Linked DNA regions of Homo sapiens: all the other regions are linked to region 1. The links come from fine-mapping of genetic effects on gene expression. A gene starts in region 1. Each other region holds a variant in brackets. All regions are shown on one strand. Distances are between the middles of the regions.

Region 1 (2,768 bases):
TACTTAGGTGACAGTAATGTGTGGTAAAGAGTGGGCCTTGCTGGCATGCGGACAATGACCAAATTGTATTGATCATATTTTAATCGAATACATTGCTCCACTACTGACTTGCAAATACATGATGAATTTGCTTTCTAACATATTCCAAGAAGGCCAGAGAACTGGCTTATCCATTTGGATTAATCCACTGGTGAATTTCTTTCGGGATAGGCCAAAATGGATCTGGACTATAATCTTTACATATTTAGATCCTTCAAACTAGACCAAAAAGGAAATCTGGGCTGCAAGGCTCAATTAGAAGAACAGTGTGGGATGCTGCTTTGCTGACTATTGGGGGTCGCTGCCCCATGTCTTCAGAGGAGACTGGAGCCCAGTGCCTGCCATGACCAACTTATGAGGTGAAGTAAGGGCTTCCCCCTAGGAACGCATGTGCTTAATACAGATGTGCTGTGTGCTAGGTACCCTAAGGACTACAGGAAATAATGAGAATACATGATGTGTCCATAACAAGGAGGCACACAGGCCACGGCACCAGCTCTGGAATCACACAGCCCAGGTTCGAAGCCTGGCTAGGCCACTGTCATATCAATGACCCAAGGAGCAAGCAGCCTAAGGCTTAAATGTTGTTGCTGTTGTTTGTTGTGGTTTTTTGTTTTTGTTTTTGTTTGAGACAAGAGTTTTGCTCTGTTCCCCCAGGCTGGAGTGCAGTGAGGTGATCTCAGCTCACTGCAACCTCCACCTCCCGCTTTCAAGCGATTCTCCTGCCTCAGCCTCCCTAGTAGCTGGGATTACAAGTGCGTGCCACCACGCTCAGTTAATTTTTGTATTTTTAGTAGAGATGGGGTTTCACCATGGTGGTCAGGCTGGTCTCGAACTCCTGACCTCAGGTGATCCACCCGCCTTGGCCTCCCAAAGTGCTGGGATTAAAGGCGTGAGCCACCGCGCCCAGCCTTAAATGTTGTTTAAAACAAATTTGTGAAAAGAAGTGAAGAGGCCCTGCCTGCCAGGAAGAGATGTGGTAGGGCGTAGCATCTAGTCAGGACAAGGCACCACGTCCCCTCCTCGGAAACCCTCACGGCCTGGCTGGTGACCCTGGCGCCACAGAGACGGCACACCTGGCTCCAGGCAGCACAGAGCACTGCCAAGGTCCTAGAGGAGGCTGGCAGGATATAGGTTGTCCTGTGCTTAACTTGAAGCAGATGTGCCCTCTGTGAACCGGGGAATGGGGACGGCCGACACAGGGCCACTGCGTGCAACAGCGCCGGGCCAGGGCTAAGGAACAGGCAGAGCCGGCGCCCAGGTGACAAGAGCTCTGGCGATGGGCCCGCAGGCCCCAGCAGTTCCCTCATAGAGGCCACGCGGTGCAACACCTGCCACCGGCAGCGGGGCTTCCGGGGGTCCTGGGGCAGCTGGGGCCGACGGGGCGTCGCCCTTTGCCCTCTGACCCCTGCCTTTTGCGCCCCCGCTGGCGCTCCCTGGTTCTGTGAGGAACCTCGCGGCGGCGTCGCAGGCGTAGAGCCAGTCAGTTTGTGCTTGGTCGCCAGAGGAGGCGGTGGCTGAGGAGAGTTGAGTCCACTGCTGACCCTGTTTTACGGTAGGAGGCACGGCTAGCTCTAAATGGGCAATTTACTTAGTAAATTTAGACCCGGGTGCCGCCGCCGGCCCCTGCCAGGGCCAGGGCGTGGCGCCCCCGCTCCCCTGTCCCGGGACGCCTCCCCGCCCGGTCGGGCTCACTCTGTACCCACCCCGCGCCCTTTCCGCGGCCTGTTCCGCCGGAACGCCCGTCGCAGGCCTTCAGCAGCCAGCATCTTCGTCGCCCCTAAGAGGCCGTGTCCTCTCCCTCGGGCTGCGGCCGCCCCTCTGGGGGTCCTGCCGGCTGTGGGTTGGGGGCTGGCCATCAGGAAGACACCCATGCTGCCTGCTCGGAACCCCCCGAGGTTTGGACACCCCAGTTCCGTAAGGATCCCTCCTCCCAGCCGCATGTTCACTCTCCTGCTGCCTTCACCACGTGAGCCGGCGGTCAAGGCCAGGAAGCCCATCCCAGCCACTCTCCTGGAGGAGACCGAGGTGTGGGCCCAAGAAGGGCCCAGAAGAGTGAAGAAGGATGAGGATCCGGTGCAGATCGAAGGGGAGGATGACGAGAAAAGGACCCCCCTTAGCAGCGGAGAAGCATCGTCCACATCCAGGTCCCAGGGCACCCAGGGAGACGTGGCCTCCTTCAGATGCAGCCCTGGGCCTCTGGAGGGAAATGTCTACCACAAGTTCTCAGAAAACAGCATGAGTGAGAAGGCCCAGGCGTCTCCAGCGAGCTCCTGCTTGGAAGGCCCTGCCATGCCCAGCACACACAGCCAGGCCGGATGTGCCCGGCATCTTGGAAAGCCTGATCCGGATGCAACAGCGCCCCCTGAGCCAGCCGTTGGCTGCTCCCTGCTGCAGCAGAAGTTGGCTGCGGAAGTGCTGAATGAAGAGCCACCGCCCAGCTCCCTAGGCTTGCCGATTCCGCTGATGTCCGGAAAGAGGATGCCTGATGAGAAGCCTTTCTGTATTCCTCCAAGGAGCGCTGCTCCTCCCAGAGCTGCCCGCAACAGGCCCTGCAAAAGGAAAATGTCGATTCCATTGCTGCTGCCGCTGCCCCCTTCACTGCCATTGCTGTGGGATCGAGGTGAGCTTCCCCCACCTGCTAAGCTCCCCTGCCTGTCTGTTGAGGGAGACCTACACACCTTGGAGAAGAGCCCTGAGTATAAAAGGAATAGCAGAATCTTGGAGGA
Region 2 (2,768 bases), 74 kb before region 1:
GACCAGAATACATAAGATGAGACACCATGATTTTATACTGAGAAAGAGGCAGTCACAAAGAAAAATAGTGTGTTTTATTTGTTTTAAAGGGCATATTTGTACATCTTTCAAATAGAGATGTATCATAAAATTAATGTTGTTAAAAACACGATTGGTCAGAAGACAGGCATAATTTGATTGCTTTTTTGTGCACACATATAAACTTGGTGTAAAAAACACTTCCATTTTCACATTCTGGTGATATCGTTAAACATTAGAACTTGCAGAGTGATATTGGTAGATCAGAAAAATAATCTAACAGAAAGTTTTATGGTACTCTCGCAATAAGTGTGGCATCAGCAAAGCTTCTAGTCATCAGAGATGATGCTAACATAAGAGAAATCATGGACAAGGTGAATTGAAAAGTGATTCAGAAGAGTTTGATCTAAGTATGTGACATTTTAGAAAACACTTGTTACCTATTTTCCTTTCTTTTTTTATCTTATGTGATCATAGGAGTGATATAAGACCATTACCCACATTTATGTAAGTTCAAAATAGTTATTTTCAATATATATGTATTTTCTAAGTGATAAAAAGTTTCTGTGTTACAGTTTTTCAATGGTTTTGTGTTTTTATTGTGACATAAAATAATGTTGTATTTTTATAATTGATGCAAATGATACTTACAGGTGCTTGTGATAGCAACAAAAGGCAGAGAAATTCTAGGCAGACAGAGGTCCCTAGTAAAGCCCCACCCTCAAGCAAAAAAGCCTGAGACTGTGGTCCAAAGTGCGAACTTATATACCTGTTTTCCTGCTTGAATGTTACCTTTTCCTAAACCACCCATGGCCCACCCCACCCCATCCTGTGCCTATAAAAACCCTAGACTCAGCCAACAGAGAGAAGCAGCTGGACATCAGGGACTATGGCTGGATGTAGAAGAGAAGCAGCTTGACTTCAGAGGGACAGCTCGATAGCATAACTTCAGATAAGAATTCAGGTGGAGATGGCCAGCCTTCAGGGGAAGATTACCTGCCTCCCCGTTCCCTCTTCAGCTCTCCTTCTCAATGAGAGCCATTTTATTAGCAATAAAATCCCCCACATTTAGCATCCTTAAATTTGTTTGTGCAACCTCATTTTTCCTGGATGCCACACAAGACCTAGGGAGCCTCAAGTGTGTATACAGAAGGCTGTCACACTGGCCCTTTGCCCTCGCTGGTGGAGGGCAGCCACCTCACATGAAAAGGCAGAGGGCCCACTGAGCTATTAACACTTAGGCCACCCGTGGACAGCAGAGCTTAAAGACAACTGTAACACACCCTCTGTGAAAAAAAACACACACACGTATTCACATGCTGTCGTATAATTTTTTTTCTGAAAATACATCTTACTTTCCCTAAAACTTTGCATGTATCTAGTAGATTTAACTACATATATTAATTGTAATTTTAACTGTCAGCAACTCTGATTTTTAGTGAAAAACCTAAGAAGTAAGCATTGTTTTTTTTGTTTATTATCAGATGCAAAGCCCAGGACAAAAGGCAGAGATGCAGATAATGTCTCACCCTTCCCAGTACAGTCAGAGGGCACAGTTGGGCTAAGAACTCCACATATCCCTTGG[A/G]CTTACTATGGCTACAAGCAAGACAAGTCAAATAATTATTACCAATATCACAGGAGCAGTTTACAGCCTTAAAGCATCTAGCTAAAACAGTATCTGACCTGCTTGACTATTCAGACAAAATATTTAAATAATTCTAAAGACATTTAAATTTTATTTTTACCAAAAATTTTATGTTTTTGCCTTTTATTTTAGGTTCGGGGTACGTGAGTAGGTTTGTTTTATAGGTAAAGCGTGCGTCATGGAGGTGTGATGCACAGATTATTTCATTGTCCTGGCAATAAGTGTGGTACCCAAAAGGTAGTTTTTCAGTCTTCTCTCTCTTCTTACTTTCTACCCTCAGGTAAGCTGTAGTGCCTTTTGGTCCCTTCTTTGTGTCCATGTGTTCTCAATGTTTAGCTCTCATTTATAATATGTGAGAACATGCAGTATTTGGTTTTATGCTCCTATATTAGTTTGATGAGGATAATGACCGCCAGCTCCATCCATGTTGCTGCAAAGGACATGATCTATTCTTTTTATTGCTGCATTGTATTCCATGGTGTATGCATACCACATTTTCTTTATCCAGTCTTCCATTGATGGGTATTTAGGTTGATTCTATGTCTTTGCTGTTGTGAATAGTGCTGCAATGAACATACCCTGCGTGTGTTTTCATGGTAGAATGATTTATATTCCTTTGGCGTATACCCAATAATGGGATTGCTGGGTCGAATGCCAATTCTGCTTTAAGTTCTTTGATAAATCACCACACTGCTTTCCATAGTGGCTGTACTAGTTAACATTCCAACCAACAGTGTATAAGCATCCCCCTTTCTCCACAACCTCACCCAGCATCTGTTATTTTTTAACTCCTTAATAATAGTCATTTTGACTGGTGTGAGATAGTATCTTATTGTGGTTTTTGATTTGCATTTCTCTAATGATTAGTGATGTTGAGCATTTTTTCCTATGCTTGTTGGCTATGGGTATGTCTTCTTTTGAAAAGTGTCTGTTTATGTCCTCTGCACTTTTAAAAAATTTTATGTGTGCGTGAGATAGAGTCTCACTCTGTCACCTAGGCTGGAACCCAATGGTGCAATCATGACTCACTGCAGCTTCAACCACCCATGCCCCCAAGTGATTCTCCTACCTCAGCCTCCTGAATAGCTATGCACCACCACACCTG
Region 3 (2,768 bases), 280 kb before region 1:
CTCAATGCCTAATTGTCCAATCCTTGACCAGGCATCCTTCTTACTGTAATTTGTTTTTATTTCCATAGGTTATTGGGGAACAGGTGGTTTGGGTTACAGGAGTAAGTTTTTTAGTGGTGATTTGTGAGATTTTGGTGCACCCATCACCCAAGCAGTATACACTGCACCCTGTTTGTAGTTTTTGATCCCTCACCCCCTTCCCACCCTTTTCTCCTGAGTCCCCAGAGTCCATTTTGTCATTCTTATGCCTTTGCATCCTCATAACTTAGCTCCAACTTATGAGTGAGATCCTACAATGTTTGGTGTTCTATTCCTGAGTTACTTCACTTAGAATAATAATCTCTAATCTCATCCAGGTTGCTGCAAAAGCAATTAACTCATTCCTTTTTATGGTTGAGTAGTAGTCCATTACATGTATATATATATATATGTGTGTGTGTGTGTGTGTGTGTGTATATATATATATGTGTACGTATATATATATGTATACGTATACATATACATATATATGTATATATATGTATATGTATACGTATATATATACATATATATGTATACGTATACGTATACGTATACATATATATGTATACGTATATGTATACGTATACATATATATGTATACGTATACATATATATACATATATATGTATACGTATACATATATATCACAGTTTCCTTATCCACTCATTGATTGATGGGCATTTGGTTTGGATTACTGTAAACTTCTAATTATTGTCAGATGCCCGTACGGAACTTTTCAGACCTGTGACCACTACATTCATATCAAGACAACCACTTTCTAGGAGAACTCTGAATTGGAAAAATGTTGAGTTCAGGTGTGTTGGTCATGTGAGACACGGAGGAGGCCACTCAACAGAGCACATGAAATAACGTAAGCGGTGTATTTCTTACAGGTGAGGTTCACGGGCACCATCGCAGGCTCTACCTGACACAGCAAGTATTCTCCAGTCTGCAGATTTCTCAGTCTTCACTTATTTTTTGTGAACTTGACTTTTTTGAAAAGTACAGGTCAGATATTTTGTAGGTTTTCCCACAATATGAATTTGTCTCATGATTTCTCACGATTAAACTAGGGACATAAATACATTAAAACCATGCATGTATGTTTGAAGACCAGAAAAATAAACATTATAGATATTAGAAATATAAAGATAGAGGTAAATATAATAAAC[A/G]CAAATTAGAGGATAACAAATAATTCACAGTAATAGCTACTTTCAGTGATTGAGGAAGATGGTGAAGCTCAGGAGATGCACTAAGGGCCATCAAACATATTGCTCATGTTGTTTTATAAGGTCAGCAGTGACTTTAAAGATAAAGAAACCTTATAAATTTAAGAATGGTTTTAGGTTTACAGAACAGTTGTAAATGTAGTACATAGAATATCCATATATCCCACGAAGTTTCCATTTTTATGAAATTCTTACATTAATGTAGGACATTTGTCACAAGCAATCAGTTTTATAACACTATAACTACTCTTCATACTTTATTCATTTTTTTTAGTTTTTACTTAATGTCCTGTTTCTATTCCAGAATCTCATCCAGGATACCTCATCACAGGTACATGTCATGTCTCCTTAGAATTCTCTGACTTTCACAGTTTCTCGGAGTTTCCTTATTTTTGATGACATTAATATTACTAATGTGGGATTCCTCTGATGTTTCTCTAATGATAAGACTGGATTCGTGGGTTTAGGGGAGGAAGATCATGAGGAAAACTATCATTTTTATTGATTTAATTTTGAGACAGTGTCTCACTCTCTCGCCCAGGCTGGAGTGCAGTGTCATGAGCTTGGCTCACTACAGCCTCCATCTTCTGTGCTTAAGGATCCTTCCCTCTCAGCCTCCAGGGTAGCTGAGACTGCAGGTATGTGCCACCATGCTGGGCTAATTTATTGTTGTTGTTGTTTGTTAGTTTTTTTGGTAGAGGCAAGGTTTCACCATGTTACCCAGGCGAGGGTCAAACTCCTGGGCTCAAGTGATATTTATTTTGTTATAGAGATGGGGTCTTTATGTGCTGGCCAGGCTGGTCTGGGATTACAGGCGTGAGCCACTGTGCCTGGCCAAAAAGTGCCATTCTCATCATATCATACCAAGTGTACAAACTGTCAACAAGAGTAGACATTCATTATTGGCAGAATGTCTACAAATTCCTTTAAACCTTCACCATAAACATGTGCCTATTCTTTTCCAATTATTTCATGTGTATTAATGTATTTACTTATACATGCATCTTTTATTTATATCATTATCTAAATATGGATATTTATTTTACAATGCATATGTGCTATTTTTTTTTTTTTTTGAGACAGAGCCTTTCTGTGTTGCCCAGCCTGGAGTGCAATGGTGCGATCTCAGCTCATTGCAACCTCTGCCTCCTGGGTTCAAGCGATTCTCGTGCCTCAGCCTCTCAACTGGCTGGGATTACAGGCATGAGACACTACACCTGGCTAAGTTTTGTATTTTCAGTAGAGACAGGGTTTCACCATGTTGGCCAGTTTGGTCTCAAACTCCATACCTCAGACGATCCACCCTCCTTGGCCTCCCAAAGTGCTGGGATTACAGGCATGAGCCACCATGCTTGGCCACTATTTTTTTTTAATTGCACAAAGTGTTCCAGTGTTGGCTATTGGAAGATTTTTAAGTTGTCTCTTGTATCATTTTGAAATACCTCCATAACTAAAGTTTAATGTTGTGTGGTTGGTTGGTTTTGTTGTTGTTTGGCATTTTCTTTTGTTCAGTCACTA

Which allele goes with the higher level. Alleles are on the strand shown, and positions count from the first base shown. SD is a standard deviation of normalised expression in the study named.
With allele G in place of A in region 2, the expression in thyroid of the gene that starts at base 1,525 in region 1 is lower (small effect, 0.33 SD a copy in GTEx).
For the expression in fetal neocortex of the gene that starts at base 1,525 in region 1, G is the low allele of the variant in region 3 and A is the other (large effect, 0.81 SD a copy in Walker 2019).

Evidence for each region. PIP is the estimated chance that this variant, and not a neighbour inherited with it, causes the effect. A credible set is the group of variants that fine-mapping cannot tell apart.
Region 2: its variant is the best candidate, but not a certain one, in a credible set for the expression of NPAP1 in thyroid (GTEx, PIP 0.50).
Region 3: its variant is the best candidate, but not a certain one, in a credible set for the expression of NPAP1 in fetal neocortex (Walker 2019, PIP 0.72).

The regions. Positions count from the first base shown.
Region 1 is chr15:24,674,251-24,677,018 of GRCh38, forward strand. NPAP1 (nuclear pore associated protein 1) reads left to right here and starts at 1,525. Exons shown (of 1, transcript NM_018958.3): 1 at 1,525-2,768. The coding sequence starts at 1,618.
Region 2 is chr15:24,599,837-24,602,604 of GRCh38, forward strand. No RefSeq gene overlaps it. Among named protein-coding and RNA genes, the nearest start is that of PWRN1, 43 kb to the left of the region's middle. The variant A/G (reference allele first, on the strand shown) is at 1,604.
Region 3 is chr15:24,395,276-24,398,043 of GRCh38, forward strand. The region is part of intron 2 of LOC105370733 (a long non-coding RNA gene); the gene reads left to right. Among named protein-coding and RNA genes, the nearest start is that of PWRN3, 44 kb to the right of the region's middle. The variant A/G (reference allele first, on the strand shown) is at 1,194.